Homo sapiens: one gene and its partners. The protein of the gene in region 1 interacts with the protein of each later gene in a biochemical or structural test. Each region holds a gene or a part of one and is shown on either strand. Other genes may lie near its edges. The genes, in order: CUL9, APEX2 and UBE2G1.

Region 1 (10,060 bases):
TACTTTTCCTCACATGTTCTGATCCCACTGCCTCACATGCTGCTGTCCTTCCTGTCCACCCATGTCATTCTTCTAAGTCCTAATCTGTAACCCTCAGCCACCCTGCTATCCTGCCTAAACTGTCTTGCTTAACTGTCACTCTGTTTATTGTTACTTTGCCTATTACTGTTTTAATTCTCTTTTTGTAAACTCCCCTTCCTTCCTTTCTTCCTTCCTTCCTTCCTTCCTTCCTTCCTTCCTCTCTCTCTCTTTCTTTCTTTTTTTCTTTTTTTTGACAGAATCTCACTCTGTTGCCCAGGCTGGAGTACAGTGGCGCGGTCTTGGCTCACTGCAACCTCCGCCTCCTGGGTTCAAGTGATTCTCCTGCCTCAGCCTCCTGAGTAGCTGGGACTACGGGCATGTGCCACCACACCTGGCTAATTTTTGTATTTTTAGTAGAGACGGGGTTTCACTATGTTGACCAGGCTGGACTTGAATTCCTGACCTCGTGATCTGCCCACCTTGGCCTCCTAAAGTGCTGGGATTACAGGCGTGAGCCACTGGGCGCAGCCAACTCTTCCATTTCTTAAACCCCTTCTTCATCCCCTCTCTGTCTTCACTCCATTCTCCTTCTGTTATAAATCCCAAAGTATGTTCAGCTATTTATTCCATCCTATTTTTTGCCTTTTCTGTTTGGCCTCCTAAATTCTACCATGCAGCCTACCGATCACCACCCACCTTCTCTGTGTCTCAAGATTCCACCCCCTCCATGTATTTTTTTTCTTTTCTCATACTGCCTTATCTTTCTCCTTGTGTATCCCAGGAGGTCAGGATGGTGGGGGAACGGCATGCTGGGGACCTCATGGTGCCCTTAGGGCCTCGGCTGCAGGCATATCCTGAAGAACTCATTCGACAGAGGCCTGGGCATGACGGGCATCCTGAATACCTGATCCGATGGAGTGTCCTGAAGTGTGGGGAAGTGGGCAAAGTGGGTGTGGAAGAAGGCAAAGCAGAGCACATCCTCATGTGGCTGTCGGCTCCTGAGGTCTACGCCAACTGCCCTGGGCTGTTAGGTGAGCGGGCACTATCTAAGGGACTTCAGCACGAACCAGCTGGGGTTTCAGGAAGCTTTCCTCGAGATCCAGGAGGCCTGGATGAAGTGGCAATGGGAGAGATGGAGGCTGATGTTCAGGCGCTGGTACGCAGGGCGGCCAGGCAGCTGGCAGAAAGTGGGACCCCAAGCCTCACGGCCGCTGTGCTTCACACCATCCACGTGCTCAGTGCCTACGCCAGCATCGGGCCCCTCACTGGTGTCTTCAGGGAGACAGGAGCCCTGGACCTGCTCATGCACATGTTATGCAATCCTGAGCCTCAGATCCGCCGGAGTGCAGGCAAAATGCTGCAGGCTCTGGCAGCCCACGATGCTGGTAAGAGACAGCCAGGGAAGAAGGAAAGGAATGGAGAAAATGGGGCCACAGGGAATAAGAAAGAGGAGAGATTTCCTAGCTCTGTAAGAACACCTAGTATTTGGTGAATATCAATTTGATGCAAAGGAAAAAATATAGATTAATAGGCTATTTCAGGTATATAAAGAGGCTAAAATGATAGCCTCTGGCTTATCTGTTCATTCTCAGTGCATTGACCAGAGAAGAGAATAGGACTTATCTGTATTTTTGAAACTGGATTGAGATTTATTAGTTGGTTTTGAAATCAATTTGGTGGGTTACAACCAACATTTTTTTAAAAACTTAAGTCATTAGTGTGTAGCACTTAGTAGGGGTAAATTTTGTAGCATAAAATATATGTTTCAGTTATATGTATGTATGTTTGTAACAGGTTACCATGTAAAATGTATTTCTTTCTGTGAGCCTTAGTAACAAAGTTTGAAAGCGTCTGGGGTAGGAGATAGAATCTAGGAAAGGCAGGGAGAAAGTACTGGGGATTGAGGAGAAGATATGGATTGGGTATGGATTACAGGGAGTCGGGCTCACGTCCTTCTATCACTGAGCCAGCAAGATGGCATCGAGCAGCACATGGATTTTGACAGTCGCTATACATTGCTGGAGCTGTTTGCAGAAACCACATCCTCTGAAGAACACTGCATGGCCTTTGAGGGCATTCATCTGCCTCAGGTACACTGCCAGCTGTAGGGAAATGCTGTGTACAAGGGCTAAGACATTATTTATGAAAACGTGGTTCAGGACTGAATGTTAGCACCAGAGCCACCTGGGAACTTGTTAACATGAAGGTTCATGTCCTCCCTCCCAGCCCCTCTCCATTCAGAATTTCTGAGATGAGAACCCAGGAATCTGTGTTTTAAGACACTCCCTATGCCTTTCTTACACAAATCAAAGTTTCAGAACTACAGGCCTGGGGAGAAGGCCTTTATATTTTTCTGTAGAGGAGGATACTTCAGGGAAGGGGAGAGGCTAAAGCCAGGAAGAGATGAACCTGTCCCAAGGATTGTGTCTTACAGATCCCAGGAAAGCTGCTTTTCTCCTTGGTGAAGCGCTACCTTTGTGTCACGTCCCTCCTGGATCAGCTGAATAGCAGTCCAGAGCTGGGAGCTGGAGACCAAAGCTCCCCATGTGCCACAAGAGAGAAAAGCCGGGGACAGCGGGAACTGGAGTTCAGCATGGCTGTGGGCAACCTCATCTCTGAGCTTGTGCGGAGCATGGGCTGGGCCCGGAACCTCAGCGAACAGGGCATGTCACCTCCCCGGCCAACCCGGTCCATCTTTCAGCCCTACATTTCAGGCCCCAGCCTTTTACTCCCCACCATTGTCACCACCCCCAGAAGACAAGGGTGGGTCTTCCGCCAGCGCTCTGAATTCTCCAGCCGTAGTGGCTATGGAGAATATGTGCAGCAGACACTGCAGCCAGGGATGCGAGTGCGGATGCTGGATGATTATGAGGAGATCAGTGCTGGGGACGAGGGCGAGTTCCGGCAGAGCAACAACGGCATTCCCCCTGTGCAGGTGGGCAGCACATGGTGGTGAGACACTGTTGGGAGTTTATTTGGGGTGGGGTGTAGCTGGGACTTCATAAGGAGGACTCCTGCAGGCCACCCAAGAAGAACCCCCCTGGGGAATTGGAATGATACAAGGGGGTTGGCATTTGTGCGGGGTGCATTTGGAGGGCTGAGAAAATCTGGCAGGGGTGTGGGTGGGCTGTAAGTTCATGGGAGACTCACCCAGGAAGCAGAACTGATAAATGGAGATACCTCCCCACCAACACCAGTGGAAGAGGCTAGGAAGGAATGTCGAGGCAGAGAATCATGGTTAAGAAAAGAGGCAGGGCCCACTCCTGATAAGGGAAGGAAGCCTTTTGCCATATGGGGGTTTTTCCAGGCTTAGCCAGGTGTGTATCTGAGGGTGCGCCCCAGATCTATGCTTGGGCATGTCCTTTCAAGCCTTCACAGGCCAAGGCTCAGAGGGTTGAGCCTTCTCTATTCTGCTCTCTTTCTTCCTCCCTCATACCAGGTTTTCTGGCAGTCGACAGGCCGCACTTACTGGGTGCACTGGCACATGCTGGAGATCCTGGGCCCTGAGGAAGCCACTGAGGATAAGGCTTCAGCAGCTGTGGAGAAGGGGGCAGGGGCTACTGTGTTGGGCACAGGTGAGCCTAAGAGGGGACATGGATAGCATGTCTCTGAACAGAGGATTAGTGACTGGGATGAAGCCACTTCTGACCAGGAGCAGCCCTAGGGGTCCAGAAATAGACCCCATTCCTGAGGGGTGCTGATGCCCGCCATGCCTGTGTCCTCAGCATTTCCCTCCTGGGACTGGAATCCTATGGATGGGCTGTACCCTTTGCCGTACCTCCAGCCCGAACCTCAGAAGAATGAGAGAGTGGGATATCTGACCCAGGCTGAATGGTGGGAGCTGCTTTTCTTTATCAAAAAGTTGGACTTGTGTGAGCAGCAGCCAATTTTCCAGAATCTTTGGAAGAACCTGGATGAGGTATTATAGGTCTGAGATACCTGGGGGTTTTCTAGTAGGGTTAGAGGTGGGATTCTCTAGAGGGAGTTTCAGATAGGGGTTACCGCTTAGGGGGAGGCTGGAGCTAGAGATTAGAGTTAGGAGGAGTCCTGCTGGGGGTTGGAGGCAAGTGCTGTGAGGGTCTAGTATGTAGAAGGTGTGGGGGCATGGTAGGGAGTGATCACCCTTCCCATTACTGACCCCAAGACCTTTGTGTCTGCTTGTCTCTTAAACGTATACCCCTTCTGTTGACAGACCCTGGGTGAAAAGGCCCTAGGTGAGATCTCTGTGTCCGTGGAAATGGCCGAGAGTCTGCTGCAGGTTCTCAGTAGTCGATTTGAGGGCAGCACTCTCAATGACCTGCTCAACTCCCAGATCTACACCAAGTATGGGCTGCTGTCTAATGAACCAAGCAGCTCGTCTACTTCACGAAATCACTCCTGTACCCCAGATCCAGAAGAGGAGTCCAAGTCGGAGGCCAGCTTCTCAGAGGAAGAGACTGAGTCCCTCAAAGCAAAGGCCGAGGCCCCTAAGACAGAGGCCGAGCCCACCAAGACAAGGACCGAGACCCCCATGGCACAGAGTGATTCTCAGCTGTTTAACCAGCTTCTGGTGACTGAGGGGATGACCCTGCCCACTGAGATGAAGGAGGCAGCCAGTGGTGAGTCAGGTTCTGGGAGGAAGCAATTGGAACAAGTCCTGGGTAGTCTCAGTAGAAGAAATGGATAGTCAGGATCGAAGGAAAGCCATGGAGGAAGGTGATTTTTGCAGGGGAAAATGCCTTGGAACCATGCGTCCATCTTCTTCCTTTTGACCTTGATTGTATTTAATTAACCAGCGCTCCCTTCCTTCAGTATCTCTGGAAAAGGAGGATCCGTTTTCTGGGGTGTCTTCATCTCCTTTGTTTGATCATTAGATCCCTGACACAGAATTGGAAAACTCTGCAAGCTGCAGTAGCCGATAATGTGTTTAAATATTGGTAGGATAACTGGGCTTGACTTTAAAGACTTCTAACTTCAAGGTGCCACAGTTCTTTTAGCCATTGCCTTTTCCCACCAATTTCAGAAATGGCCAGAGCCTTGCGGGGTCCCGGTCCTCGCAGCTCCCTGGATCAGCATGTGGCAGCGGTCGTGGCCACTGTGCAGATATCCAGCTTGGACACAAACCTGCAGCTTTCAGGGCTCTCTGCCCTCTCTCAGGCTGTGGAGGAGGTCACTGAGCGGGACCACCCTCTGGTCCGTCCTGACAGATCGCTGAGGTTAGCATACTGGGGAGGGAAGAGGTTTTGGTTGAAGCTGTAGGCAAAGGATGGTGGTAGCGGGGAAGGAGCTTTGAGATCACGAATTAGAAAAGCTTGGGGTGAGGGAAGGCTCAGCCTGAGGAGCAGCCGAGCAGGAGGGTTGGATGTTTTAATGGCTCGTATTCTTGGAGCACTTCTGTTATGCCAGGCACTGTGCTAGTATTTTACATGCATTCTCTCATTAAATCCACCTAACACCTGAGGAAGCGTTGGTAATATTATTATCCTACTATATGGGTGAGGAAACTGAAGCTTAGAGAATTTAAGTAACTTGCTTAGAGTTTTACAGATAGCAGAGCCAGGATTCAAACCTAGGTCTTTTTGGCTCTAGAACTGGAGTTTTTTCTCTTTCTTTTTCTTTTTTTTCTGTCCCTACGTACTTTTTTTTTTTCACATTAGACCTTAAAACCTACTTTATTTTAAATTTTTTTCTACCTTTATTTATTTATTTTTGAGACAGTCTTGCTATGTCGTCATGCTGGAGTGCAGTGGCGCGATCTCGGCTCACTGCAACCTCTGCCTCCCGGGTTCAAGGGATTCTCCCGCCTCAGCCTCCCAAGTAGCTGGGATTACAGGCACCACCACACCCAGCTAATTTTTGTACTTTTAGTAGAGACAGGGTTTCATCATGTTTGCCAGGATGGTCTCGATCTTCTGACCTCGTGATCTGCCTGCCTCGGCCTCCCAAAGTGCTGGGATTGCAGGCGTGAGCCACCGCGTCCAGCCCTCTACTTTTAAATTATACAAATAACACACAACTTATTCTCATTCTATTTATTTATTTTTATTTATTTACTTGTTTTTGAGACAGAGTCTCACTCTGTCACCCAGGCTAGAGTGCAATAGTGTGATCTTGGCTCACTGCAACCTCCGCCTCCTGGGTTCAAGCAGTTCTTATGTCTCAGCCTCCCAAGTAGCTGGGATTACAGGTGCCCACCACCAGGCCCAGCTAATTTTTGTATTTTAGTAGAGACGGGGTTTCACCCTGTTGGCCAGGCTGGTCTCGAACTCCTAACCTCAGATGATCCAGTCTCCCAAAGTGCTGGGATTACAGGTGTGAGCCACCATGCCCAGCCGCATTCTCATTTTAAAAGATCTGAAGAATGTAAAAGGACATAGGAGGGCCAAAGTCCTTTCTCACCACTGTTATCAGTCTACTATATCCTACAGATTTGCATTTGTAATTGTGTGTTTGGAAATAGAGCATTTTCTGAGTCTTTGTTTTAGTCTATGTAATCACATTCTACATGTTTCTACAACTTTTTTTTTTTTGCCCCCGCTCAGTGTCTTAGAGGGCTTTCCATATCAGTCTGGGTGGAGCTGCCTCATTATTTTTACTGCTGCATGGGACCCTGCAGTGTGGTTATCTCCAGTTTCAAGTGCAGTGTTCTAACGCGTCTGTTTTTCCTTACGTCTGCCAACACTGAATATTGTCGTCTTTTTTAATCTATCTAATTGGCAGCATTTTAAATGATTGGTATCTCTTTGTTTTAATTTCCTAGTTCTGGTAAAGTTAGGCACATTTGCATACATTTGTTCTGTTTTTTTTTTTCTATAAATATTCTGTTATTATCCTTTGCCCACTTTTTAATTGGATCTTTGCCTTTTTTAATGTATTTATAGGCATTTTGGTTATTCCTTTGTTATTTATGTTCCAGATATTTTGCTTGTCTTTTTAAAAATCATCTTAGCTCTATTTTTTGGTTATAGAATAATACATATGGTAAAAAAGTTAGAAAATTATTAAAATAAAAATTATCTGATCATATTCAAGTGAGATTGACAGAAAAAAAATCTGAAAGCCATTAAGACAGAGACAATCACTATTAACATGTTGGTAAACATCCTTACTTATTTCTCTAGTCATATGTATTACCCATGTATATTATCTGGTATATAATAAATCATGGCCATGGAAGGGGATATGTATTTCAAGCATATTTCATTCACACTGTTGTCATTATTAAACTTCTTAGAAAAGATAGATTAAAAACAGAACTTTCCCAGAAGTTCTCCTTCTGTGTTCTTTCCCCTCGTAGTTCCCGAGCCACCTCCTCAGTTGGCCTCACTGTCACTGTTAAGCAAGAGTCAATACCTGCTATTTTCTCTCCTGACCCTCACCGTGATCTAGGGACTCTAGAGGCACTTCTTCCTCTTCTTTTAGATCAGCATTTCCACTGGCCCCTTTCTCTAGCTCCTGCGCTTGTCTCGTAATTTTGTGTATAGTGTTTTTTTCATCATGCTAGAGTTTCAGACTTTTTGTTGCTACATTTTTCAGCTTTTTTATGGCTTCTAGATTTTGTGTCCTACTTAAAAGGATCTATTCTGTTCCAGAATTATAAAAATATTTTCCTATATTTTCCAAAAATACCCATGATTTTGTTTTTTTTAAATTTATTTAAAAATTCATTTGCAGTTTATTTTTGCAAATGTTGTGAAATAGAGCTCCAGCTTCAGTGTTTTCATATGGATAGCCAGGTGTCTCTAAATTGCATTGTGTGTGTGTGTGTGTGTGTGTGTGTGTGTGTGTGTGTGCGTGTTGTTTTTTTTTTTGTTTGTTTTTTTGTTTTTCAGAGACAGGGTCTCAGTCTGTTGACCGGGCTGGAGTGCAATAGCAAGATCACATAGCTCACTACAGCCTCAAACTCTTAGCCTCTAGCAACCCTTCTTGCTTATCCTCCCAAGTATCTGGGACTACAGGAATGAGCCACCACACCCAGCTAATTTTTTTTTTTTTTTTTTTTTTTTACTTTTTGTAGAGATGGGGTCTCACTATGTTGCCCAGGCTGGTTTCAAACTCTTGGCCTCAAGCAAGGCCTCAGTCAATAATTAATTAATTAATTTTGAGACAGAGTCTTGCTTTGTCGCCCAGGCTGGAGTGCAGCAGTGCAATCTCGGCTCACTGCAACCTCCGCCTCCTGGGTTCAAGCGATTCTCCTGCCTCAGCCTCCTGAATAGCTGGGATTACAGGCCTGCACCACCACGCCTGGCTAATTTTTGTATTTTTAGTAGAGATGGGGTTTTACCATGTTGGCCACATTGGTCTCGAACTCCTGACCTCAAGTGATCCACCTACCTCAGTCTCCCAAAGTGCTGGGATTACAGGTGTGTGTCACTGTGCCCAGACAACATTATATTTTAAATGGTTCTTCCTTTTTTTTTTTTTGCTGGCTTATACACCACCCTTATCTCTCTTCTCATCTATTGATCTATTTAGCTACCCTATGTCAGTTCCAGGGTTGTAGTTATTACAAGTTTATATTTATATTTTGATAATAATAGGCAAGCCTACCCCTTTTCTCTTTTTTTTTTTTTTTTTTTTGAGACAGGGTCTCACTCTGTCAGCCAGGCTGGAGTGCAGTGGCATGATCACAGCTTGCTGCTGCCTCGACCTCCCAGGCTCAGATGATCCTCCCACCTCAGCCTCCCAAGTACCTGAGACTACAGGCACAGGTCACTATGCCAGATAATTTTTTGTAGAGATGGGGTTTTGCCATGTTGCCCATGGCAAAAGCCATGGGCTCAAGCAATTTACCTGCCTCAGCCTCTCAAAGTGCTGGGATTACAGGCATGAGCTGCTGCACCTGACTACCACTATTTTTTTCTCAACATTTCCAAGGCTTGGATCTGCCTGTTGTGGTGTTTTTAAAAACCTTTTAGGCCAGCACTTTGCGAGGCCAAGGCAAGTACACTGCTTGAGGCCAGGAGTTCGAGACCAGTCTGGGAAACATAGCGAAACCCCGTCTCTACTGAAAAACAATACAAAAAATTAGCTGGGCGTGGTAGCACGCACCTGTAGTCCCAGCTACTCAAGAGGCTGAGGCTTGAGAATCACGTAAACCCAGGAGGCAGAGGTTGCAGTGAGCTGAGATCGCGCCATTGCACTCCAGCCTGGCAACAGAGCAAGACTCCATCTCAAAAACGAAAAGACAAACAAAACCACCTTTTAGGCATTTTGATTAGTATCACTTTGAATTTATAGATTTATTTGAAAAGGTGAGCCAGAGTTTATAAACATTTTTTCTAATGCCTCCTTCATTAGCCGAGGAGCCAGAGGCAGTTAGGCTGCAGAGGGGAGGGGATTGGGGTGAGACTGAAGCCAGGAGAGCAGGTTTGGGTGGGGCAGAGAGGATGGACTAGATCTTGGTGGATGGGATTGGTCAGGGAGTCCGACGGTGCCATGGCTGGGAGGTCAGGCAAGACTCCTTGGGATGGGGAGCCCCAATATCTCTTCTCTTGTCAGAGAGAAGCTAGTGAAGATGCTGGTGGAGCTGCTGACCAACCAGGTGGGAGAGAAGATGGTGGTCGTGCAGGCCCTGCGCCTCCTTTACCTGCTCATGACCAAGCACGAGTGGCGGCCGCTCTTTGCCAGGGAGGGTGGCATCTATGCTGTGCTGGTCTGCATGCAAGAATATAAGACTTCTGTCTTGGTGCAGCAGGCTGGGCTGGCGGTGAGTACATTGGGCCTGGCGGGAGAGAACAATGGGCAAGACAGGCAGACTGGGGACTACTGATCTTGAGGGGGTACTTTGGTGCTTCAGATCAGTGAGTAGACTTTGGAATGGAAAGATGCAGATGGTTTTAAGAGTTTGATCTGGACATTCTTCGGGATTAAGTGTTTGGAAAAAGGGAAAAGGGAGTTTTGGGGTTATTTTTGTTGGAGACAGGATCTTGCTATGTTGCCCAGACTGATCTTGAACTCCTGGGCTCACGTGATCCTCCCACCTCAGCCTCCCAAAGTGCTGAGATTACAGGCATAAGCCACTGTGCCAGGCCAGGAGGTTTTTTGTTTGTTTGTTTGT
Region 2 (10,520 bases), on another chromosome or scaffold:
ATTCACATCAGAAATGCAAGGTTCCCAAGGACAAAAACACAAACACAAAGTCCCTACTGGGGAATGCAGTGTTTTGAGCTGGCAATTAGAGGCCCAAACTGGACATGGAAGGTCCACTACTTCTCTGCTTCCCCGACCCAAAATGGCATTGCATCCCTTGTCTTCTCTGGATTCTGCTGCCTTCCTTGCCACAGGGCCTCTCCCACCTGAAATGTGCTGCCTGGAGCACTCTTGAAGAGATGGGCACTATCCGATCATCTTTCTACTCTCTCCAGCCAAGGGCTAAATAAATAGGAGTAAACTGACACCTTTGGAAGAGTGCAGCCATTGCCTGGGGCTGGAGGTGGGGGAATGGTAAGCTCTGCCCACATGGCTGTTAGCCACCATCAGATGCCCTAAGGAGAATGACACTGGCATCATGAACTGATAGAAAATTTCACTAAAGTTCCTCATGCCAAGCTATTAGGATGGAGATTTAGGAGGGTGGAGGCTGCAGCAGGGAACAGAGAGCAATGGCCTCAAAGTAGGACAAGTCCATAGGCCAGAGTCATCCAGCCCAGATGACTCACTCTCACCTGCCCTCTCCCGCTCCCCTGACCCGTTGTTTTGAGGCTTTTATGTGTATAACTCATAGAACTGCACAGCTTGCCTCGAAGATGCACAAGTGTCCTCTTACTTCACTCTTTTGCAACCTTCCCACCCCCAATGAACCTCCAACGATTGGCTATGAAGAAGCTCAACTTTCTTCCACTGAGCTGGGCTACACAAGGGCAATCTCTTGGGGACAGAAATTTCCAATCCCTGCCCTCAAATGCTCTCAGTTCCACTTTGCCTTTTAAGAAGTTCCCTAAAATACATTTGCAAGCCGTAGTCTACACAAGGGTCAGATTCCCTCCAGTTGTTGTGTATAAATCATACCAAATTTTTAATACATTCCAGAGCCCACCTATCTAAATGAATCAACTGAGATAGCAGATCATGATGGTTAAGAGCAATAGGCTCTGGAGCAATATTTCTTGAGTGGAATCCTACCTCTGCCCCTTGTTGGCTATGAGGCAATGAGCAGAAGACTAAACTTTTCAGTGCTTCAGTTTTCTTATCTGGAACATGGGAATGATAGGAGTACCTACCCTCCTTAGGACTGTTGAAGATTCAATGTGTTAAAAAATGTAAAGCAATCTGTGAAATGTTAAAAATATATTATCTAACACTGTTACTCCCTTTGGGAGGTAAATGATCAGACACCTCCTTGACTAATCTGAAACTTCTAATATAATGCTGACCATACAGAAAACTCTCAGTTAAGGAAACTTACAATATTATGGGAAAGGGTTAACATTTATAATACACAAAGAGCTCCTGCAAATCAATTAGAAGGATGAATTTGGTTTTACTCTTTTGATTTTGTGTAAAGACTTGCAAGATCATTTCATCTCACCCTCTCAGGTAAGAAAACTGAGGTCTAGAAATATTTTCCTAAGGTCATGTAGTAAATCAGTGGCCAAGTCAGGAATAGAACACTAGGGACCTAATTTCTCCCAGGCCAGGGCTTTTCTTTAATTAATCAAACAAGCCTGATCTAAGAATGTGGTCTTACAGGTTAGCTCAGAACCTCTAGAGTCTCAGAACTAGACTTTGTAAGAGATACAACTCTTTTAATTCTAATAAATTTCCTAACTGGTATAAATCTGTTAATATTAATAATCTTAATTATAACCCTTTCCCTGTATGTTTTCCATTGCCCACAAAGCAACAACATATTCCTTATCTTATTTGATCCTTGCAAACATCCTTGTTAGCCTTACAGGGAAACTGAGGTCTGGGGAGGGGAAGTGGCATGTTCAAGGTAATCTAGCTGGTCACATGAACATCTCTTTTATGTTTACAATTTTGTCCTCATGGCCCTGCCAACAGGCAGAAGGATAATTTTAGCAGCAGGAAATCTGAGATAAGAAGCTGGCAGGCTTTTGACAAAGTCTTAAAGGGTAAACCTGGGGTCCAGGCTTGAAAGCCTAACTTAAAATTGCCTGGAATTAGCTATGAGATTCCTCACTACTGTTACCAATTCTGATCCCAGAAGCAGGAGACCAAAACAAGCTTTATGGAAAGACCTCAGCTTGGCACTCAAGACTTTTCAATCAAGCTTCAGCCTATCTGTCCAGCCATATCTCTCCTTAGATCATCCTTAAACTGCACTGGCTGACTCACTGGGCCCCAAAATACATGGTGTATTTTCCTGTTTTTTGGCCTTTGCTCAGCCTGAAATGCCATTTTCCTCCTTCTATTCCCAACAAAATCTGATCCACTTTTCAAGGTCTGGTTTGATGTTCACTTCCTCTGGGAAGTGACCCCTGTATCCTTGGGACAGGCCTTGTATTTGGTTCTTATATTGCCCACATGCTCCTATCTGAGCAAGTATCCACCAGTATTTTCCTGGTCTGCTTCCCCACTAGACTGTGAACTCCTTGAGTATGGAGACTAGATCTCAGTGATCTGTAATTTGTGTTTCCAGTGTCCAACTCAGGCCCTGGCACAGAGGACAGAGAAGACACTTGCTTATTGTGTTTGTGCAGTCTACATCTCTCTGCCCTAGATGAGATGAACTTGTGGACAACTAATCCTAGTTCAACAAGGTAAATATTATAACAGAGAGCTGTGCAGGGAATTGGATGGGAGAACTAATTTGTCTGAGGTAGGAGGTGGCATCCAGAAAGGTTTCTCTACCTTGAATGGGACAGAAACAGATAAAAGAATGAAGTCCTCTCTGAAAAGGGCCAATGAACTCGTGGCAGAGAAAGGGTTCAGTCAGTACCAGATTCTCATTCAAGATCAAGCTCTGACCTGCAGCTCTTGGTCTAAAATTCTAAAATGGGGCTATCTCTAGGGAAGAAAAGATTACAATGTGATTTCCCAAGGCCCCCAGATCCTGACCCCATACCCCTCCCAAAGTATAGGGCATGTGTATCGGGGGAGAATACCATGTAAAGCAGCATATGACAGTGCTGATGGATAATAAAGTCACGAATGGGGTCTCCCTATTGGTAGCTCTCAGACTGTTTGGGTATGAATGCATTTGTGGAGAGTGAAGGTGTGAGGGGAGATCGACCACACACTTACAAGCTAGGTGCATGTATATGAGTGTCAGGCCTTCTGTGACAGCAGCCTAGGATCCCCTTCCTTCTCACCCACTGTCCTGGCCCACCATCTCTCCACTATTTTCGGCCTCATGCCTGGGCCCCAAACCTCACTGAATCCTAGTCATGGAAGTGGCTCTCCACAGACTATAGTCGCACAGCAGCTGGAGGGTTTTGGGTGGGATTGCTTGTGGAGCCTATAGAAAAAGCAAGATGACTACTCTTAGAGCGAGGAAGTCCTGAAATGTCTCCAAAGAGCTTTGGTTTCTGCCTTTCCACTCTTCTTGATCGTGACAGCCCTCTGAGGAACGTTGGCTAGAGACTTTGATTTCCATTTTACTGAGGAAGCTACTGATGCCCAGAGAAGCAAGAGAGCTTGTTCAAAGCGCCACAGCAAATCAACCCTACTTTACACATCAGTGGGGAGGTAAGAGCTATAATCTCAATCACTCAGTTCATTCAAAACCAGACTTGACCAAGTTAGAGAGACTTTCACAGGTGCTAGTGAATTGCCCTGGGGGCCAGTGTCCCATAAAGGCCAGAATGGACTTTTAAAAATATACAGACAGATAAATAGGTTACATATAGATATAATCTTTTCCCCCACTTTCCCATGCCCTTTAATGCACACGACAACCAACCATCTATGCAAAGAAAACTTTCCAGAGGGCCTGAAGAATGGATGTGGATTTGTGCAACTCCTGCCTACTTTCCCTTCTTTCTCACCTACCTTTTATTCTAGAGGTTTTTTCTTCCATCGCTAATTATCCAACACTCGGTTCTCTTGCATTTACAGACCCCCAAGGCAGGTCCAGTGGGTGGCATCAAAGAGGAAGCCTGGAGGTGTTCGTTGGTTCCCTGAGAAGGCTGAGGACGTACCCTTGTTAAGTGGGGGATGTATGTGCTCTGTTGAAATATCAGCTGTTGTAGTTGCCAAAGACGTTCCTGAGCCACCAGAAGCCTTTTCTCTTCAGTCCAACCATGTGTTCACCTTGCCCCAAAGGTCAGAACTAATATTAACAAGCCACTGCAGAATGGGGAAATTAAAACCAGCCATGGAGACAGGCAAGTTCTGGATTTCGCTGGTGCTGAGTTTCAGATCGATCTTCAGTGTAAATGGGCATAATCCCTTACTGGAAAGCAATCTGGCAATATGAAGCAAGAGCAATAAAAATGTTCATTTCCTTTGTCCTAGTTATCGCACTCATGGGAGTCAATCCTGAGTCAATAACTCCCAAAGCATGAAGAAGCTCAGGACATGCAAATTTTTATTTTAATCACAGAGCTATTTTCTGATAGCAACAACTGGTAACCTTTTAAGTCCTCCAGGAGGAAAAGCAGTTTACTGCGTCTTTGCTGTAACCATTGAGGATGATGGCTCTAAGACTTAAATTCTGGGGAACAAATAATTATGCTGCAATTCTGGGTGAGGAACCTAAAGATGCATCGTTATGCTTTTCCCTGGACATTGGGCATATCCATTACTTCTAATTTTTGTGCTCTCAAAAACAAGCCATGAACCTGTCGATGCTCTTGCTATTATCCTTTGTTCATTCATTCACCTGACAAATATCTATTGCTTCCCAACATATGCTGTGTCCAGTATTAGGGGATGGGGCTAACAAGATGAACCAGACATGGTCATTGCTCTCAAGTTGCTGGCATTCTAATGGCAGCAGAAATAGAAGTCAATGATAGCTGTGTATTATAAGTACTGTGACAGAATGGACCATAGGGTGCCGTGGGGCCCCAGAGGAAAAGACTTAACTGGGGAGGTGTGTGGTCAGTAAAAACACTCAGAAAAGTAATTATTGAGCTAATTAAGACAGGGTGTGAATCCTGGCTCTACTACTTCAGTGTAAGAGAGAGTGAACTGTGAGAATGAAATGAATTCATTCGACGTCTCTAACTTAGCCTCCATGTCCCGAACTGGGTTGTCTTGAGAATGAAATGAGATAACATATACAGAAGAGCCATGGATGCATCCGGAGACAATGCTGCTCACGAGCTTACATTTCCTGGGCTTCGATTTCACTTATCTGAGAAACAGAACCAAGAGTAAGGATGTGTCCGGCTACATCCTTCAGAATGTTAAGAGCCAAGACAAAAGCTACAGGGCAGGCTTGAGACAGCCTCCTCCTCCTCCCCTCTGCCCCAATAAAGCCAAAGGCCCTCCTCCTAAGTCTTATCTCAGTGGAGCGACTCTTACTGCTCCCTCCTCCAACCATGAACTTCCCTTTGCCCAGTCCAACGCGAGCACTTAGCGCCAGCTATTCCTGGGGCGCAAGCGCTGCAGCCATCTGTGAACTTAGGTGGGCGGTCCGCCGCACTGAGGGCGGGGCTTTGGCAGCTGAGCAGTTCCGCTCAGGGTTCCGTCGCTTAAAAAGTGGCAAAATGCCGTTTGTAAGTAACCGGACGCACCACTTGGACTTCTGAGTAGAGGAAAAACGCATTGAGACTCAGCTGTCCGAGCGGAAGGAGCGGGAGCCCAACTGGAAACTCCTCTCGCCATTCATTGCCCCTAGGCTTCCGCTTTGCTTCCTTCAGCGTCCACCCAGTTCCTCCTCCCGCCAATGAGAGCTGAGGAAGTTGAAGCCCCCGCCCGACGTGCGTCAGGCGCTTTAGTGGTACGCACGAGAACGCCTGCGCAAACGCGCGCGGGAGGCGGGCCTGGCCAACTTCTGAACAGGAAGCAGTTCGCTCGCGCCTAGGTTGGCGCGGGCTGGGAGGTGTTCCAGCCCTTTAAGATGTTGCGCGTGGTGAGCTGGAACATCAATGGGATTCGGAGACCCCTGCAAGGGGTGGCAAATCAGGAACCCAGCAACTGTGCCGCCGTGGCCGTGGGGCGCATTTTGGACGAGCTGGATGCGGATATCGTCTGTCTCCAGGAAACCAAAGTGACCAGTGAGCGCTCTGGATTCCAGGATCCCTACATACTTTTTCTTTCCCGCTAACTTTTGTCCCCTGTCCCATGTAATTTTACTTTCCCAGTTTCCTATTCTTAGAGTCCTGTCCTTAGACCCAGGTCCCTTCCCTCTTAAACTTCCATTTCCCACCCTAGCTAGATCCCCTAATTGCACTCCATCTCCTGTCTTCAGCAAACTTTAGCTCCTTCTCGAAACCCCATATCTAGTCAGATTCCCACTCATTCTCCGGCCCCAAACTCAGTCCCCTGAATTTCCTCCTTCCATACGCTGTCCATCTCCCCGCCGCCAAGTCAAACCCCCGAATTCTTCATCCCTGCCCCAAGCTCAGATCCTCTAATTCCCACCCCATCTTTGACCCCAGCTCAGTCTAATTTCCTCTTTTTCACATTTCCACCTCAGAACCCCAGTACCCCTTATCTATTCCCATCTCTCCTCCCAGCGGAAAGTCCCTAATTCCCACCTCATTTCCCACCCCAAGCTTAGATGTCCTCTTATTTCTTCACCCTCTTATCTCCCCTCAGAATCCCCTAATTCCTTTTCCCTCCACCCCCAGTTCAGATCCCCTAATTCCCTCTCTCTTACCTCTCACCCTTAGCTCAGATTCCCACCATCCTCTCGTATGTCCATCCCCATCCCCAGCTTCCTCCTATCGTTCAGACCCCCAGGCTTAGCTCTGATTCTTTCCCCTTCCCACCTAATTCTCCACCTCCACTTCATAGTCTCTAACCGCCCCCCACCAAGCCTTCTAATTCTGATATCAATTTCCTCTCTGACATTTCCCATCTTTCTAGGTCCTCCTCTAATCATGGATATTTCATTCCCGTCACCCCCAACTCTGGCTCTGATGTGTGCAAGGAATTAGCCTACAACTGTAATTCCAGGCCTTTGTGTTTCTCGGATGCTAGTTTTACCTCTGACTTAATCTTACATTTTTTTTTTCCAGGGGATGCACTGACAGAGCCCCTGGCTATCGTTGAGGGTTATAACTCCTATTTCAGCTTCAGCCGCAACCGTAGCGGCTATTCTGGTAAATGGGGCTTTCTGTGGACTTTAAATTAGTGAGGGAGGCAGATAGGGGAAAAGGGTTTCCAATATTTGATGAGAGGGTAATAAGAAATCTTAGACATTTAGTTTACAGAGCTAAAGCTGCATAATAGTAAATTACATGAAATATAATTTTTATGGATAGAATTATCCTACTGGACCTCAGAAGTACAGTAGTAGTGTGGTGCTTAATTGTGTGAACTGTGGAGCCAGACAGCCTGGGTTTGAATCATGGCTCATTTCCTAGCTGTGCACCCTCTGGCAAGTTACATTACCTCTTGGTGCCTCAGGTTCCTCAGCTAGAAAATGAGGATAATGTTTACCTTCCGGGGCTGTTACAAGGATTAAATGAATTAATCCATGTGATAATAATAATTGCTAATACGTCTTGAGCACTCACCATGTATCAATGTAAAACACTTAGAACATTCTGTGGCTTTTTTAGATGTAGGAACTGAGACTCCAGGGTTTGAATAAGGTTGCCCAAGAACCACACTTTATGAAGATGACTTAGATGACTTGTGTGGGGACAATTGGAGTGGGACAGGCTGTGCAACAGGCTATTGACTGCCAGGTCTGCTCAGAGTGCCCTGTCTGTTCCCAGGTGTAGCCACCTTCTGTAAGGACAATGCTACCCCAGTGGCTGCTGAAGAAGGCCTGAGTGGCCTGTTTGCCACCCAGAATGGGGATGTTGGTTGCTATGGAAACATGGATGAGTTTACCCAAGAGGAACTCCGGGCTCTGGATAGTGAGGGCAGGGCCCTCCTCACACAGCATAAGATCCGGTAATAGCTCATATCTCCCTGCTACTGAGCACTGCTGGTGCTACTCTTTGAGTGTGAAGATTCTAAGGCTTGCCATGTAAACATACATGCACCGTGGAGAAGTTCCCAAATTTGCCTTTCCTGGTTTAGTCCTGGCTGGGCTACTCAGTGTGTGACCCTGGCAAATTTTTCCCCCCTCTGAAGCTTGAGTTTCCATCTCTACAATGTGGGGCTGGCCTAGTGATCCAGCTCTTATTACCATAGACATCTCAAAAGCAACTTAGTGCTGAACTCAGTGCCCCAGGTTGCTGTCTTTCTGGGTGTTCTGTGTGAATAGCAGCACCATTACCTGGTGGTAATCCTTAGATATCCCTCTCCCTGCCTTATCAGTAGTCAGTCCCCAAGTCCTGTGCATGCCAGATCATTTGTGTCTCTTTAACCCCTTTCTTTTCCATCCCAGACAGTCACAAAATGGAAGCCATGTGGTATGGGGAAGGGACAGAAGGGGAGGTTTGAAACTGACCCCTTTTGGGGGTTTCTCTTTTCTCCAGCACATGGGAAGGTAAGGAGAAGACCTTGACCCTAATCAACGTGTACTGCCCCCATGCGGACCCTGGGAGGCCTGAGCGGCTAGTCTTTAAGATGCGCTTCTATCGTTTGCTGCAAATCCGAGCAGAAGCCCTCCTGGCGGCAGGCAGGTACTGCAAGCCTGGGCAGTAAGGCTTCCTTGAGTTGGTCCTGGGTGCCCAGCCCTGTGTCAAGCTCCATTGAAAGGGATATGGACCCTTTGTCTCTGAGTTCTTTCACAGCATAGTTGCAAACACCAATATGCCCACCTGAATAGGCTCTGCTCAAAACAAACATGGGTTTTGTACTCTGAGCACCTATTCAGGCTCCTGCTCTTACTCATTGTGAGCCCTAGGGCTAGTCTTGCCTCTGTTTTCTCTTTTGTCAAATGAATATATGAATCTCTACCCTACACAATAGTTTTAAGGGTAAAATGAGATGAGAATGGTAAAGTGCGTGGGAGCAAAGGAAAGTCTTGTTCCAGCGGAGGACAGGAAAGTGAGGGTGGGTTAGAGCAATCAAGGGGAGGTGGTATCTGAGCTCAGCTTTGAAGGACAAGAAAAATGCCCATTGGCTCCTGATTAGTGAGGCAGTCATGTCAAACATGGAACACTGTCACCTTTGGAGATCAGAATTGGGTTGGTCAGATATGAAAGGCAGCAAGTTTGTGGTAAGATTGGAGAGGTAGGCTGTTATGAGTTGCTGTTGGCTAGGAAGCCTCAATATGGGAGAGGGCCTGTCTGAGCTCTTGGGCCCAGGAAAAAGTATATGGGCCAGGACTGCTGCACCCCTTTCTAACAATCCCACATTGTGTTTTTCAGCCATGTGATCATTCTGGGTGACCTGAATACAGCCCACCGCCCCATTGACCACTGGGATGCAGTCAACCTGGTAAGGCTCCCTCTAGGTGCCTGGCCCCACTCCTGACTGATTCTGTTTGTCCAGCCAACCAACCCTGAGTTTTTGGCCCAGGGACAGCTTCCTTTATGGGAAAGCGGAGCTTGGCTTGCAATACTATTCTTATAGTACTGAGGATTGGTCATTCATTCAATAGACAATACTGACTCTGCCCATGGCCTGGCCCTGAGCCACATACTGAGGACTCAGGAGTCAGATCCAGCCCTTGGCTCCTAGGAGCTCTCCAGCATGGTGGTGGGCTACAGACACATGGCTAGCCAATTATAGGATGGTATTCTCAGGGCAGAGGCACAGATGGCATCCCAGAAAGCTACAGGAGCTCAGAGATGGGATTCCTAGGTGAGCTCGGACATCAGGACAGGCAGCTGAAAATGGCTGAATCTTAACAGATGAGTAGAACAGAGCTTTGAAGTAGAAAGCATTCTAGCATGGGCAAAGGTTTCAAGGTGAGAATTTGCATTGTGTGCATGGGGAACCACAAGTCCCTTTCTTCTTAGTGACACAGGAAGGGAGGTGAGTGGCAGAAGGTGGGGCTGGAGAGTTGTTGGGGGTCAGATTTCAAGGACTGTGAATTCCACATTGCCTTGGTCATTTCCTTAATACACTGTATTTCTTGTTTATGAACTTTCAGTACCTCCCTGTTACCTCTGTGATGCAGAGAAAACATGGAGACCTAGCATTCAAGGCTCTCCTTGGTCTGTGACCTGTCTCTTATTTCCACCTTCAGTGTCCCTACACATTTTGTCCTCTCTAGACAGGTTGTCTCCTGTCGGCCCGTTGTAAAAGTTATTCTCATTCTGGCTTTTCTCACTGTGCCCTGAATTGGTGGACATGACCCCCTCCCTGTCTTTTTGTTATATGAACCTCTTATCTCTAAGTTCCCCTAGGCCCATGGTTTTCAGCCCCTAACTGCATATTAGAACAAAAATATCAATATCTTAGCACTACTCCAGATCAATGAACTCAGAACTCTCGAGTGTGGGGCCAGGGTAGTGGCACGTTCTAAAAGCCCCCAGTGTGACTTTATTGTGCAGCCAGGCTTGAGAACCACTGCCCTAGAATCCACAAGCCAGCTCTCATCTTTTCTTGCCTTATGTCTCACGATGGGGGATCAGTGATTTATGCTGGTACAGTCCTACTCAGCACTGGGCTTGGCTTAGAGAAGG
Region 3 (10,060 bases), on another chromosome or scaffold:
ACCCGGCGTGTGTCATTCTCAGTTCAAGCGATCTTCCCCCTACCCACTCTAAAACCAGTAGCCTCTAGCCCTCAGCAGAAGCCAAAGACTGGAGTGATGAAATCTGTTTTTGAAATACATTTACTAAGAGTTTGAGGTGTTCGTTAAATCACCTTTATGGCTTCTTAAGGAAAAGGTTGTCAGGGGTTCTTACAGATTGTATAATTGGGTTTATTATTAGACCATGAGCAAGCAGGTTTGGACAAGTATTAAAGTTCTAGATGCTCAGGGGGAGTTAGCTTGCAGTAAATGGAGAAGTTCTAATGATACTACAGGATACTCATAAAAATTATGTGCTGGAAAAGCACTGAGGCCGGGCGCGCTGGCTCACGCCTGTAATCCCAGCACTTCGGGAGGCCGAGGCTGGCGGATCACCTTAGGACAGGAGTTCAGGGCCAGCCTGGCCAAAGTGGTGAAACCCCCGTCACTACTAAAAATACAAAAAATTATTCGGGCGTGGCGGAGGGCGCCTGTAATCCCAGCTACTCAGGAGGCTGAGGCGGGAGAATTGCTTGAACGCGGGAGGCATCGTTGCAGTGAGCTGAGATCGCGCCATTGCTTTCCAGCCTGGGCAACAGAGCGAGACTCTGTTCAAAAAAAAGAAGGGCCGGGCGCGGTGGCTCACACCTGTAATCCCAGCACTTTGGGAGGCCGAGGCGGGCGGATCACGAGGTCAGGAGATCGAGACCATCCTGGCTAACACGGGGAAACCCTTTCTCTACTAAAAATCCAAAAATTAGCCGGGCGTGGTGGCGGGCGCCTGTAGTCCCAGCTAATCGGGAGGCTGAGGCAGGAGAATGGCGTGAACCCGGGAGGCGGATGTGCAGTGAGCCGAGATGGCGCCACTGCACTCCAGCCTGGGCGACAGAGCGAGACTGTGTCTCAAAAAAAAAAAAAAAGAACTTTATTGCATTTTTTTTTTTTTTTTTGAGGCAGAGTCTCACTCTATTGCCCAGGCTGGAGTGGAGTTGCGCGATCTCGGCTCACTGCAACCTCTGCCTCCTGGGTTCAAGTGATTCTCCTGCCTCAGCCTCCCGAGTAGCTGGGATTACAGGCGCGCGGCACCAAGCTTGGCTAATTTTTTGTATTTTTAGTAGAGATGGGATTTTACCGTGCTGGCTAGGCTGGTCTTGAACTCCTGACCTGGTGATCCGCCTGCCTGGGCCTCCCAAAGTATTGGGATTACAGGCGTGAGCCACCGTGCCCGTCTGCATCTTTTTTTTTTTTTTTTTTTTTTTTTTTGAGACGGAGTCTTACTCTGTTGCCCAGCTGGAGTGCAGTGGCGCAATCTCGGCTCACTGCAAGCTCCGCCTCCCGGGTTCACGCCATTCCCCTGCCTGAGCTTCCCGAGTAGCTGGGACTACAGGCGCCCGCCACCACGCCCGGCTAATTTTTTGTATTTTCAGTAGAGACGGGGTTTCACTGTGTTAGCCAGGATGGTCTTGATCTCCTGACCTCGTGATCCGCCCGTCTCAGCCTCCCAAAGTGCTGGGATTACAGACGTGAGCCACCGGGCCCGGCCTCTCTGAATTCTTACATAATGGAAAAGATAAACATTTAAAAGGTGTGAAAGAAGTTATGCATTACTAAGAAAGTAAAATAAGATAACAATGTCAGCAGCAGCAATGTGTGAAAGGATTTCCTATCCGTTTGTGAACCAGCTCTAGATTTTGATGGTCATCTGGTTCCGTTTTGCACTTTTTTTTGACAATGTATATAGCAAATATTAATAAAACGTCCCAAAGCTCTTTCTTAATGATTGACTTTCTGATGGGGCATACTAAAATACACTTTAAGATAGAGGAGAGAACAATTTAATTTGTATTTTTTCAGGCCTCATTGTAAAGTTACTTAGCTGCAGATTTAAGTTTTCCTGCCTTCTTGATCAGAAACAATGGGATTGTTTTTAATTTTTTTTTAAAATTTGAAGCATGTTAATTAACATGCTCAAAATGTACAAAGTAGTAGGGCAAGGCAAATGAATTTTAATTGAAATGTAAACATATCAAATTTATTGGAAAGATTCGATAACTACACACAGTGAAATAAAAGCCTTGTTTTATTTTATTTTTGAGACAGAGTTTTACTTTGTTGCCCAAACTGGGGTGCAGTGGCGAGATCTTGGCTGACGACAACTTCTGCCTCTGGGTTCAAGTGATTCTCCTGCCTCGGCCTCAGAGTTGCTGGGATTACAGAAGCCCTCCACTGTGTCTGGCCAATTTTTGTATTTTTAGTAGAGACAGGGTTTCACCATGTTGGCCAGGCTGGTCTCGAACTCCTGACTTCAGGTGATCCACCCACCTCGGCCTCCCAAAGTGCTGGAATTACAAGTGTGAGCCACCACCACCTTTCACCCAGACTGGAGCGCAGTGACATAATCTCAGTTCACTGCAACCTCCGCCTCCCAGGTTCAAGCGATTCTGCTGCCCCCTGCGGCCCCCAGTAGCTGAGATTACAGGCATGTACTACCACGCCAGGCTAATTTTTGTATAAAATTTCCAAAAACTTAAAACAACAATGGCTACATTTATTGAACCTCTAGTCTGTCAATCCTTAAGGATTTAAATTAATTACTTGGTAGAATATATCGGGTATGTTTTGTTGATAACATAATGAAGAATCTGGTTACTTTCAGAATTGAACAAAATGGTTCCTTGGGTTGTGGAGTGTCTCAGTCTTGGCGCTACTGACGTTTTGGGTTGAGTATTGTTGTAGGGCCTATTCTGTGCATTATAGATAGAATGTTCAGCAGCATTCGTGGCCTTCACCCACTAGATGCCAGTAGCATACTCCCTTAGTTGTGACAACCATAAATGTCTCCATTGCCAAATGTCTCCTGAGGGACAAAATCATCCCAGATTGAAGATTACTGAGTTAAAATGTTTCAGAGAAGACCATTATGGCTAATTGTTAAGCAAATAAAGACACCTAACAGATTCATGAAATCAGATAGGTTGTGTATTTCTCTGTGGATATTATTAGACTATGACTTACTCCTTTGCAAATTGAGCGGTGGCAATTCAAGTTTTGCAGTGCCTTATGTTAAACACTAAAAAATCCCTCAGCACAGGAGATACTTTTAAAACATTTTATCTTTTGAAAAGGTATTATAAGCATTGGTTAAAAATGCAAAGAGTACAAAAAAACATAGTCTTTTCACCCTGGCCATAAGTTCTTTTTGTGGAAGCAACCCATCATTGACAAATATGTCTTTTTTTTTTTTTTTTTTTTTTGAGACAGTCTTGCTCTGTCGCCCAGGCTGGATTGCAGTGGCCCAGGCTGGAATGCAGTGGCACGATCTCCGCTAAGTGCAACCTCCGCCTCGCGGGTTCAAGCGTTTCTTGTGCCTCAGCCTCCCAAGTAGCTGGGATTACAGGTGTGTGCCACGATGCCCAGGCTTATTTTTTGTATTTTTAGTAGAGACAGGGTTTTTGCCATGTTGGCCAGGCTGGTCTTGAACTCCTGATCTCAGGTGATTCACCCGCCTCAGCTTACGAAAGTGCTGGAATTACAGGCATGAGCCATCATGCCTGGCTGACAAATGTGTCTTTTCAGAGAGGTTCTTGTATGTATGTTTATATAGGCTAACGTTTACTGAGGACTAACATGTACCAGGCACTGTGCTGAGTACTTTATATATTTATTTTATTTTATTTTTATTTTTTTGAGACGGAGTCTCACTCTGTCACCCAGGCTGGAGTGCAGTGGTATAATCTCAGCTCACTGCAATCTCTCCCTCCTGGATTCAAGGGATTATCTTGCCTCAGTCTCTGTAGTAGCTGGGCTTACAGGTGCTGGCCACCATGCCCAGCTAATTTTTGTATTTTTAGTAGAGATGGGGTTTCACCATGTTGGCCAGGCTGGTCTTGAACTCCTGACCTCAAGTGATCTGCCCACCTTGGCCTCCCAAAGTGCTGGGATTACTGGCGTGAGCCACCACCCCTGGCCTCTATTGCATTTTTTTTTTCCCAACACAGAGTCTTGTTCTGTCACCCAGTCTGGAGTGCAGTGGTGCGATCTTGGTTCACTGCAACCTCCGCCTCCTGAGTTCAAGTGATTCTCCTGCTTTAGCCTCCCAAGTAGCTGAGATTACAGGTGTCCACCACCACGCCCAGCTAATTTTTGTAGTTTTAGTTGAGACAGGGTTTCGCCGTGGTGGCCAGGCCGATCTTGAACTCCTGACCTCAGGTGATCTGCCCACCTTGGCCTTCCAAAGTGGTGGGATTTACAGGCAGGAGCCACTGCGCCCAGCCCGTCTATTGCATAGATGTATATTTTTTGAGACGGAGCTTCACTCTTGTTGCCCAGGCTGTAGTGCAATGGCATGATCTAGGCTCACCACAACCTCCGCCTCCCCAGGTTCAAGTGATTCTCCTACCTCAGCCTCCCCAGTAGCTGGGATTACAGGCATGTGCCACTACACCTGGCTAATTTTGTATTTTTAGTAGAGATGGGGTTTCTCCATGTTGGTCAGGCTGGTCTTGAACTCCCGGTCTTAGGCGATCTGCCCGCCTCAGCCTCCCAAAGTGCTGGGATTACAGGCGTGAGCCACTGCGCCGGGCCAGTTTTATTATATAGTTTGTTAATACACATTATATGTTGTGATATTTCCATATATAGTTGTGAAATTAGGTGCATTTATCATTATTTAATAGAGTGGATCTAGGGTGGAAAATCTGATAATCCAGTGACTATCATTATATTGTTGCCTTTTGACTTCCTTTTCTCAGGTGAAGAATGTTTGATTGCACTGTCAAGATGAGTTTCAATCCTTCGCCTCTTTTGGTCTTGGGTACTTCAGTACAATTTTTTTGTTGGCAGGAGGGTACAGTGTGGGCATTCCTTTGCTTTAAGCAAGTAAAGTATTAATTAAGCACTCTTTTAATGAGATCAGTTTGATTTAGGATAAATAATTTGGCATTTCTTAATTATTGAAACCTTTTTTTTAGATTTAAATTTTTGTTAGAATTTAGATGACCTCTAAGGGTGTGTCTAATGTTACCTTTCATTGGTTTGTAGGAAATAACTTTTCAGAGAAGGAAGTGTGGGCTTATGGAAACAAATCTGGCAAGGTAAACATAGTGTAGTTTTATATGGTTAATAGCATTTCAGGTACAGAAAAGTACAAATCAGAAAAAGCAAACATTTTCCAAATTTTGGTAATGAATATGAATTATTGGTATAAACAGATAAATGATAAAGAATAAAATGTAGTTTCAGGAAATAAGATATTTAAATGTTACAATAAAACATTCTAAACTTTTTCCCCCTAGTGCAAGATAGTATTGGGCTAATTTGAGTTAATCAGCAGTTTTTTTTTGTTTGTTTTTTTTTTTTTTTTGAGATGGAGCCTTGTTCTGTCGCCCAGGCTGGAGTATAGTGGCGAGATCTTGGCTCACTGCAGCCTCTGCCTCCCGGGTTCAAGTGATTCTCCTGCCTCAGCCTTCTGAGTAGCTGGGACTACAGGCACACGCCACCACCCCTGGATCATTTTTGTATTTTTAGTAGAGATGGAGTTTCACCATGTTGGCCAGGATGGTCTCCTTGGCCTGCCTTGGCCTCCCAAAGTGTTGGGATTACAGGCGTGAGCCATCGCGCCCGGTCTAATCAGAAGTTTTTATCAGTGCTGTTCCATTGATAGATTCTGGCCCTCATAGAAACTTCTGGAAGAAATACTGTACTGTATTGCTGTTGCTGTAGAGATGTATACCTCTTTTTATAAAGTTATGTTCTAGATTTGCAACAAGTTAATTTTTGTAAGCGGAAATATTTTATTTTACCTTTTATTTAACCTTTATACCCATGTCCAGTGACTTAGAAAAACTGCTATTGCTGTATCTTTGCTTTTTTTCCTTTAGCTATTCTTATTTACTCTTCTATTGGCTAGGGATATGTTAAAAATACAAAAAACAAAGACCTTAAATTTTTACCTGGCAGCTGTTTGTTGTTTGTTTGCTTTAATCTTGTAAAACAAGACTGCTTTTAAGTAAGTTTATCAAATAGGAATTTTTAAAAAAGTTCTTTATGTCAGGAGACACTTTTCCTTTTATCAAATAGGAATTTTTAAAAAAGTTCTTTATGTCAGGAGACACTTTTCCTTTGCTTTTGAATGTACATGCATTTTAATTACATTATCATATTCTTATGTAAGGTATATATTTTCTAGGGTTTCTATGTTAAGACAGAGTAATGCTAGGCAAAGAGTTCTTTTTCCTTTTTTTTTTTTAATTTTATTTTTTTGAGATGGAGTTTCGCTCTTGTTGCCCAGGCTTAAGTGCAGTGGCACGATCTCGGCTCACCGCAACTTCTTGCCACCTGGGTTCAAGCGATTCTCCCACTGCAGCCTCCCGAGTAGCTGAGATTACAGGCATGGGCCACCACACCCAGCTAATTTTGTATTTTTAATAGAGACAGGGTTTCTCTATATTAGTCAGGCTGGTCTTGAACTCCTGACCTCAGGTGATCCACCTGCTTCAGCCTCCCAAAGTGCTGGGATTACAGGCGTGAGCCACGCGCCCAGCCAAGTTCTTTTTCAACTTGATGCCAAAAGCATGAGCCATAAAAGGAAATATTAGTAAACTGGACATCATGAAAATTAAGAATTTTTACCTGATTAAAGACTGTTAAGAGGATGCAAAGACAAGCTACAAACTGGAAGAACATTTGCAAATCACATATCTGGCAACTGATTGTATCTAGAATATTTAAAGAACCCTCAACAGTTTAAAAAAAAAAAGTCAATTCAAAAAAATGGGCAAAATTAGACAGGTGTGGTGGCTCTCATCTGTAGTTTCAGCTACTAGGGAGGCTTGAATAGGAGCATCGCTTGAGATGGGGATTTTGAGGCGGCAGTGAGCTGTGACTTCACCACCGCTACACTCCAGCCTGGGCCACAGAGCAAGGCCCTGCCTAAAAAATAAGGGCAAAAGACACCAAGAAACATTTCACTGAAGAGGACATACAAATAGCAAACAAGTGACAACATGTTCAACATTATTAGACATCAGGGAAATGCAAATTGAAATCACCGTAAGATATCACTACTTACCTGTTAGAATAGTTAAAATTAAAAAAACTGTAACACTAAATGCTGCCAGGGACTTGGAGAAACTTGAACTTTTATACATTGCTGGTGGGAATGTATAATTGTATATCCACTATAGATAGAAAACAGCTTGCTTTTTTTTTTCTTTTTTAAGAGACAGGGTCTCTCTCTCTTTGTGTCTACATATATCTTTTAAAAATTTTTTATAAAAATAGAGATGGGGTCTTGCTGTGTTGCCCAGGCTGGTTTTGAACTCCTGGGCTCAAGCAGTCCTCCTGTCTTGGCCTCCCAGAATGTTGGGATTACAGGTGTGAGCCACCACATCCAGTCTATTTTTTTTGTTTTTTTTGAGACAGAGTTCCGCTCTTGTTGCCCAGGCTGGAGTGCAGTGGTGGGATCTTGGCTAGATTGTCCTTCTTTATGGGTGGTCTTGGCACCTTTGTATAAAATTCTTGAAATGACAGAATTACAGTGATGGAGAATAGTGGTGTTCAGGGATTTAGGGACATGAGGGATATGTGGTATACAGTAACATGAGGGATCTTTGTGGTGATGAACAGTCTTGTATCTTGATAGTGATTACACACATCTGCAAATGTGATAAAATTGCATAGAGTTATACACCCACCCCCCCCCCCCACACACACACACACACAACCGAGTGATGACATCTGAATACAGTAGTCCTCCCTTATCTGCATGGGATAAATACTTTCCAAGACCTCCAGGGGATGCCTGAAACCACTGATAGTCCTGAACCTTGTGCTTTCTCCTATATATGCATACCTATGATAGGATTTAATTTATGTTAGTCTAACAACAATAATAACACAGAGCAATGATAACAATATGCCGGCATTACTACTCTTGCACTCTGGGGCCATTATTAAGTAAAATAAGGGTTACTTGAAACCAGGCACTGCTAAGTGATAGGCAGGAGGGACAGTGTGAGATTTCATCATGCTACTTAGAACAACACAAAATTTACAACTTAGGAATTGTTTATTTTTTCTGTTATTTTCCATTTAATATTTTCAGACTGGGCTTGACCACAAGTAATTGAAAATGCCGATGGGGCAGGGGTGGGGGGACTATAAAGTATATGGATTGCACCACTGTCGATTTCTTGGGTTTGATATTGTGCTAGAGTTATACAGGGTGTTAGCATTTGGGAGAAACTGGGTAAAGGTTACAGGAAACCTTTCTGTACAGTTCCCCCTTGTCCTATGGGACTGTATTTCAGAATAAGAAGTTTTTAAAAAAAGTCACCTGTAACCATGCATTATTATCAATCCTTTTTCAAATAAAGAACTTAATATTTGTAGTTATAAATACAACTACATGGTTGCTCTATTAACATGTTCAAGGAACAGGAAGTTGAAATAGAGAAACCTGTAGTTTAAGACAGAAATTCCGTCTTAATTTTATTTTTTTGTTATTATTTTTGAGACAAAGTCTTGCTGTGTTGCTCAGGCTGGTCTTGAACTCCTGGACTCAAGCAATCCTCTTGGCTTGGCCTCCCAGAGTGCTGGGATTACAGGCATGAGCCACCACGCACAGCTACCATCCTAATTTTAAATAGCAGTCTTCATTTAAACTTGTGTGGTTGCTTGGAAAATGGAATAAAGGATCAGCATAAAAGTTTATTTATTGAGCCCTTATATGCCGTTGTATTGAGATGCTGCGGGAACGCAAAGGTAATTGATGTGATATCCCTACCTTGAGGTGCTACATTTAGTAGCACTATGTAAACAACGTTTTTTATTTATTTATTTATTTAATTTTTTTTTTGAGACAGTTTCGCTCTTGTCGCCCAGGCTGAAGTGCAGTAGCACCATCTCGGCTCACTGCAACCTCTGCCTCCTGGGTTCAAGCGATTCTCCTGCCTCAGCCTCCCGAGTAGCTGGGGTTACAGGCGTGTGCCACCAGGCACAGCTAGTTTTTTGTATTTTTTAGTAGAGACGGGGTTTCTCCACGTTGGTCAGGCTGTTCTCGAACTCCTGACCTCAGGTGATCTGCCCGCTTCAGCCTCCCAAAGTGCTGGGATTACAGGCGTAAGCCACCGTGCCTGGCCTTTTTTTTTTTTTTTTTTTTTTTTAAAGTGAAACAAGTTTATTAAGAAAGTAAAGGAATAAAGACTGGCTACTCTGCCAGGTGCAGTGGCTCTCGTCTGTAATCCCAGTACTTTGGGAGGCCGAGGCGGGCGGATCACCTGAGGTTGGGAGTTTGAGACCAGCCTGACCAACATGGAGAAACCCCATCTCTACTAGAAATACAAAATTAGCTGGGTGTGGTGGTGCACACCTGTAATCCCAGCTACTCAGGAGGCTGAGGCGGGAGAATCGCTTGAACCCGCGAGGTGGAGGTTGCAGCGAGCTGAGATCATGCCACTGCACTCCAGCCTGGGGAACAAGAAATTCCGTCTCAGAAAAAAAAAAAAAGAATGGCTACTCCATAGGCAGAGCAGCCAGTAGTAAATGAATTTTTTTTTTCTTTTTTTTTTTTGAGATGGAGTTTCACTCTTGTTGCCCAGGCTGGAGTGTAGTGGCACGATCTCAGCCCACCGCAACCTCGGCCTCCCAGGTTCAAGCGATTCTCCCGCCTCAGCCTCAGAAGTAGCTGGGACTACAGGCGTGTGCCACCACAACCGGCTAATTTTTGTATTTTTAGTAGAAATGTTGTTTCACCATGCTGGCCATGGCTAGTCTTAAACTCCTGACCTCAGGTGATACACCCGCCTCGGCCTCCCAAAGTGCTGGGATTATAGGCTTGAGCCATCGCTCCCAGCCAGTAAATGAATTTCTAAGGAAATAGTCTGGCAGGCCGGGCTTAGTGACTCATGCCTGTAATCCCAGAGTGACTCACGCCTGTAATCCCAGAACTTTGGGAGGCCGAGGCAGGTGGATCACCTGAGGTCAGGAGTTTGAGATAAGCCATGGCCAACATGGTGAAACCCCATTTCTACTAAGAATACAA

What was found.
Region 2: of the proteins of CUL9 (region 1) and APEX2, one has a biochemical effect on the other in vitro, tested with the Homo sapiens proteins (one study listed by BioGRID).
Region 3: the proteins of CUL9 (region 1) and UBE2G1 form a complex in vitro, tested with the Homo sapiens proteins (one study listed by BioGRID).

What each region holds. Positions count from the first base shown.
Region 1 is NC_000006.12:43,183,500-43,193,559, forward strand, and holds part of CUL9 (cullin-9), read left to right. Parts: intron 1-802; 5' UTR 803-811; coding exon 812-1,406; intron 1,407-1,956; coding exon 1,957-2,111; intron 2,112-2,455; coding exon 2,456-2,956; intron 2,957-3,460; coding exon 3,461-3,596; intron 3,597-3,746; coding exon 3,747-3,940; intron 3,941-4,213; coding exon 4,214-4,619; intron 4,620-4,693; exon of another isoform or gene 4,694-4,921; coding exon of another isoform or gene 4,922-4,937; intron 4,938-5,023; coding exon 5,024-5,216; intron 5,217-9,501; coding exon 9,502-9,709; intron 9,710-10,060. UniProt on the Homo sapiens protein: Core component of a Cul9-RING ubiquitin-protein ligase complex composed of CUL9 and RBX1. The CUL9-RBX1 complex mediates ubiquitination and subsequent degradation of BIRC5 and is required to maintain microtubule dynamics and genome integrity.
Region 2 is NC_000023.11:54,994,542-55,005,061, forward strand, and holds the start of APEX2 (DNA-(apurinic or apyrimidinic site) endonuclease 2), read left to right. Parts: upstream 1-5,821; 5' UTR 5,822-5,881; coding exon 5,882-6,038; intron 6,039-7,004; coding exon 7,005-7,088; intron 7,089-7,709; coding exon 7,710-7,890; intron 7,891-8,420; coding exon 8,421-8,567; intron 8,568-9,257; coding exon 9,258-9,327; intron 9,328-10,520. UniProt on the Homo sapiens protein: Functions as a weak apurinic/apyrimidinic (AP) endodeoxyribonuclease in the DNA base excision repair (BER) pathway of DNA lesions induced by oxidative and alkylating agents.
Region 3 is NC_000017.11:4,355,172-4,365,231, reverse strand, and holds part of UBE2G1 (ubiquitin-conjugating enzyme E2 G1), read left to right. Parts: intron 1-10,060. UniProt on the Homo sapiens protein: Accepts ubiquitin from the E1 complex and catalyzes its covalent attachment to other proteins. In vitro catalyzes 'Lys-48'-, as well as 'Lys-63'-linked polyubiquitination. May be involved in degradation of muscle-specific proteins.